2 separate regions of the Homo sapiens genome follow, and region 1 is linked to region 2. The links come from fine-mapping of genetic effects on gene expression. A gene starts in region 2. The other region holds a variant in brackets. All regions are shown on one strand. Distances are between the middles of the regions. Region 1 overlaps PGPEP1 (pyroglutamyl-peptidase I). Region 2 holds the start of PGPEP1 (pyroglutamyl-peptidase I).

Region 1 (2,500 bases), 27 kb before region 2:
GGACTACAGGTGCTTGACACCACAACTGGCTAATTTTTTTTTTTAATTTCTGTAGAGATGGGGTCTCGCCATGTTGCCCAGGGCTGGTCTCGAACTCCCGGGCTCAAGCAATCCTCCCACCTCAGCCTCCCAAAGCACTGGGATCACAGACATGAACCATCTCCAGGATTCCCCTCCTTGCCGAGAAACTACTGCCATCTGGGACATTTCCTTCACACATCTGGCTCTGATGGGGAAGCTGTGATTTCGGCCCCCACCCCCTGTCCCTGCCCAGCCCTGCCTCTCCAAGTGGCCTCAGGTTTGTTCCAGCCCTTGATTGGAGCAGGTGGGCTAGGTGGCCCCAAGCTCAGCCCACCCACCTTGAATTCCTGCTTCTTCCTTTCTTTCCTTTCCACTCCATCTTATTTCTTTTTTGAGCTACATCCCCACACGCATGCAACTGACCTTCTTTGGGGTGGGGAGGGGGTGCTAGGGGCCGAATAAAGGAATAAAAGTGCGCAGACTTGGGCATCTTAAAAGAGATGCCATCATCAAGTTGGTCAGGGTACCAGGTGCCCTGATCACTGTCCCTGCACCCCTGTTCCCTGCCTCAGCACCCTCCATGAGGACTCATCAGGGAAGCCCCCCCAATCACTTCTCACCTTTCTCCCCCAGCCTTCCCACCACACCCCTCAGCCTGTCTTTTCACCATTGACACTTGCCACCCCTATTCCTCTTCCCAACACCTGCCAAGTCCCACCCACCTTGCAGACCCTTCCTATGCCACCTGTAGCCCCTACCCCAGGCTCTGAAAATGAGGCAAGAGGGAATGGGACTTGGTCCTTCCCTTCTTGCATGAGGATTTTTTTTTTTTTTTTTTTTGAGACAGAGTCTTGCTGTGTCACCCGGGCTGGACTACAGTGGTGTGATCATGGCTCACTGGGGCTTCAACCTCCCAGGCATAGGTGATCCTCCTGCCTCAGCCTCCTGAGTATCTGGGACCACAGGCATGCACCACCACATCTGGCTAATT[C/T]TTGTATGTTTTGGTAGATATGGGATCTCTTGCTATGTTGCCCAGGCTGGTCTTGAACTCCTGGCTCAAGGGATTCTCCTGCCTCAACCTCCCAAAGTGCTAGGATTACAGGTGTGAGTAACCACACCTAGCCCACATGAGGATATTTTAAGCCAAGACCCAACAAAGGTGGAAAAACACACCAGAGAGTGCACAGATGAGTTCCACCAAAAGAAAAATATTTGTAAAAAACTTGGCCAGGCGCAGTAGCTCACACCTGTAATCCCAGCACTTTGGGAGGCCAAGGCAGGCAGATCACCTGAGGTCAGGATTTCAAGACCAGCCTGGCCAACATGGTGAAGCTGCATCTCTACTAAAAATACAAAAATTAGCCAGGTGTGGTGACGGGCGCCTGTAATCCCAGCTACTCGGGAGGCTGAGGCAGGAGAATTGTGTAAACCCAGGAGGTGGAGGTTGCAGTGAGCCGAGATCACGCCATTGCACTCTAGCCCGAGTAACAGTGTGAGAATCCATCTCAAAAAATAAAAATAAAAAATAACAATGAGAAAAATAAAATGAGCCAAATGTTGTGCATTATGAGGAAGGATGGGATACTGGCTTGACTGGGTAAGGAAATGTGAAACCACTGCAAGAATACAAAGATGACACACACACACGTGACAATGAGCAGACAATAGGTTATATCTCTAAGGAGCTATGTCACACAGTGCTTTAAACACAGAGGTGAAATGAAGACAAAAGAAAGATGGAAGTGTGGAGCCCGGGGCAGGTGCTTAGCTCAGTTCAGGCCTGGCACATCCCCTTCCCCATTTTGTCCCTGTCTTGGCTAGACCTGTTTTCTCCTCAGAGGCCCACAGACCAGACCTTTGAGGAATAGAGCAAGATGAAACCTGAAGTTGCTTTCCACCAGACCTCTGGGTGACCCCTGAGTCTTCAGTTGTTCCCCACATTCAAAAGAGGCCACAGCTTCCCTTCACAGAAGCTGGGGGGACAGATGCAGTGATGTCTCCCACACTCTGGATTTCTCAGGACACAGAGCTACCAGGGGTGTGGAGGGGGCATTTCCAGCAAAAAAAAAAGCTGGCATGGAGGGAACAATAGTGTCCCTACTCATTTCCACCTGTCAGTTACAGTCCACACCCACTGCCAGGCGCCCACTGCAAGTCACCCGCCAGCATCCACCTTCCCCTCCAGAGAAAGCCCAAGACTTGGAAAATGTGTTTCACAGAAACCCATCAACCCCGTTCCCAAACTATCTAGAAACCCAACAGAGGTAGGAACCACTGCCAGCATCGGAACTGGAGACAAGGAAGGTGAACGCTGAAGAAAACAAAACTCTCAGCTGTTTTAAGAAAGAACTGGGCTGGGTGCAGTGGCTCATGCCTGTAATCCCAGCACTTTGGGAGGCCGAGAAAGGAGGATCAGTTTGAGTCCAGGAGTTCGAGACCAGCCTGGGCAACATGGTGAAACCCTGTCTGTATAAAAAAT
Region 2 (2,927 bases):
CCTTGTTTCTTCCTTCTTCCCTGAATCTCCTGGATCAGCCTCAATCTCCCTTCAACAGCCACAAAACACCTGTGTGCACCTTTGCTGGATTTCCCACTCTGACCCCTCCAGACAGCAGGTCAAAATGACCCCCCCACTCCTTGACTCTGAGGCCCCAGCGGAAGTTGGCGCCCCACGTGGCCCCGAGGCGGAGTCTCAGGGAGGAGAAACAGTTGGTTTGGGGGTGGGGGGGAGTCGGTGACAGCAGGGGCCCTGACTCACCAACAAACAGCCCTGGCACAAAACACAAAAAGGTTTCCGCTGAAGACAGTCCCTGGGACAGCTGGGAGAGCCCGAGGTCCCCGGACCCCCACCTGCCCCTGCCTTGGGAGAGTAGCCCCCCAGGAGCGCAGGGCGCGGCGAGCAGTGACTGGGAGGTTCATTTGTCACTGGGACACTTCCTGCCCGCAAATCGGCCTTTGTCCCCTGGGGCCAGGGGTTGGGGGAGCGGTGTGGGGACAGGCTGGACCTCGGAAGGGGCAGGGAGGAAGGGTCCAGTCCAGCCCGCAGGCCAGACAGAGGAGGCAGGTGCCAGGAGGGTCACCATCCCCACCTTGGGAGGAAAGGACGCCAGGGGGGCCTGCGCAGCGCCGGGCTTTTGCCCGGCCCCCCAAGCCCCGCGCCCGACTGCCCTGACTCCCGACCCTGGGACCCCCAAGGCTCCTCCTCCTCCACTTTCCAGGAAGCCTGGGCTGCGCGGGGCTCCCGCGGGTGATGACACCTTCCAAATCTGAGAGGACTTCCAGCACCTGCCCCTCTCGGCCCCGCAGTCCCGGAGCCGCCCCCGCCTCTGCCCCCGGCCGCTGCCGCTACAGCCCCCATCAGCCAGCGTACCCGTCACTACCACCGCCTTCCTCGGCTGCTCCATGGCGGGATCGGGCTGTGCCTCGGACCTGCTTCTGTTGCGACTGGCGCGACAGCTGCTGCCGCTGCAGCCTCTCGGCCGCGCGAGGCCACGCCCCTGTCAAGCCCCCGGCCTCGCCCCCGGTCAGCCGCTCGGCGTGCGCGCCCCCGGGCCCGAGACGCAGCGTGCGCGCCCTGCGCCCCGCCCCCGTCGGCTAGGCCCGGTATTCCCCAGCCTCCGTTTCCCCGTCTGCAAAATGGGAACATCTTATGCCGTAGTGTGTAGCCGCTTGCACGCACTGAGCCAGGTGCTGGGGATGAGCCGGTCCTTTATTCTGCAAGGGTTCATTGAGGGCCTGCCCTATGCATGCATACTGCGCAGAATTAGGGAGGGAAGTCCCCGCGAGCAAGGCCCGTTTTCCAGATAAGGAAACTGAGGCACAGAATGCCACTTCCCCGAGGTCACTCGCCTCAAGGGGTCACAGGAGCAGCATTCAGGCCAGGAAGTTGGCGGGGGTGGGGGAGGACAGAGTAAAAAAGGAAAAACACGACAACCATATTTGTGTGGTGCCAGAAGTTTCTCTGCAGGCCCCCATGGTCCTAGGAGGCTAATGGGGGAGGGCGATTGTACCTGCTGTTCCCTCTGCCGGAACACACCCCGCAGGTACCTGCGAAGCTGGCCTCCTTCAGGCCTCAGCTCCAGTGTTCCAATGTCGCCTCCTCCCAGGGGCCCTCCTCCTGTCCTGGCTGTCACCTCCTCCGAGGGGTGAACTGTCACTTTCTCCTTGTGGCCTTCTCTGGCTATCACCTCCCTGCTATCCTATTACCTCCTCTGAGGGTTCCTTCTGGCCCTCCTTGGCTGAAATGACCTCACTGCTACCCCCCAGTGGTTCCATCTCATTCCCTGGTTCCATCCTCTTCATAGCAATAAAGCTCAGAAATAATTTCCTTTCTCTCTCTTTTTTTTGGAGACAGGGTCTCACTCTGTTACCCAGGCTGGAGTGCAGTGGCAAAATCATAGCTCTGTAACTTTGACCTCCAGGGCTCAACTGATCCTCACATCTCAGCCTCCTGAGTAGCTGGGACTACAGGTGTGTGGCACCACACCCAGCTAATTTTTGTATTTTTGTAGAGATGGGGGTTTCATAGTGTTGCACAGGCTGGTCTCGAACTCCCGAGCTCAAGCAATCCGCACACCTTGGCCTCCCAAAAGTGCTGGGATTACAGGTGTAAACCAGCACACCTGGCCAGAAATCATTTTTAATTTTTTTTAGCTTTTAAGTTTTGGGGTACATGTGCAGGTTTGTTATATAGATAAACTCGTGTCATGGGGTTTGTTGTACAGATTATTTAGTCCCCCAGGTATTATTAAGCAGAAATTATATATGTATTTATTTATTTGAGACGTAGTTTCACTCTTGTCACCCAGGCTGGAGTGCAGTGGTGTGATCTTGGCTCACTGCAACCTCTGCCTCCCGGGTTCAAGCAATTCTCCCACCTCAGCCTCCCAAGTAGCTGGGATTACAGGCGAGTGCCGCCATACCCAGCTAATTTTGTATTTTTAGTAGAGAGGGAGGTTCACCATGTTGGCCAGGCTGGTCTCGAACTCCTGACTTCAGGTGATCCACCCTTTTCAGCTCCCAAAGTGCTGGGATTACAGGCGTGAACCACTGCCTCCGGCCCCCTCCCCAGGTATTATTAAGCAGAAATCATTTAGTATGGTCACAGCCTCTCTGGTTGGCTTCCCGTTTCCTCCGACATAGAGATGAGAACTTCTAGAGGAGGAAGCGTTGTTCTGTTAGAGCTGCGTCTCAACACCCAGCACATCCCCAGGCACATTCTGCCAACATTCATCAGAGACCAGAATTCCTCTAAAAACAGGTAGAAAATGAAAGCTGAGTTTCTGGCCACATCTTCAGAAACAGGACTGGACCTTGGACTTGGGTCACGAATTTTTTTTTTTTTTTTTTTTTTAGACAGGATCTTGTTCTTTTGCCCAGGCTGGAGAGCAATGGAGCGATCACAGCTCACTGCAGCCTTAATCT

What was found. PIP is the estimated chance that this variant, and not a neighbour inherited with it, causes the effect.
Region 1: its variant is the best candidate, but not a certain one, in a credible set for the expression of PGPEP1 in neutrophils (BLUEPRINT, PIP 0.61).

The regions. Positions count from the first base shown.
Region 1 is chr19:18,365,517-18,368,016 of GRCh38, reverse strand. PGPEP1 (pyroglutamyl-peptidase I) reads right to left here. Exons shown (of 5, transcript NM_017712.4): 5 at 1-2,500. Among named protein-coding and RNA genes, the nearest start is that of GDF15, 19 kb to the left of the region's middle. The variant C/T (reference allele first, on the strand shown) is at 1,013.
Region 2 is chr19:18,338,662-18,341,588 of GRCh38, reverse strand. It overlaps PGPEP1 (pyroglutamyl-peptidase I), which reads right to left and starts at 991. Exons shown (of 5, transcript NM_017712.4): 1 at 874-991. The coding sequence starts at 907. RefSeq lists an enhancer at 434-1,121 and a silencer at 953-1,142.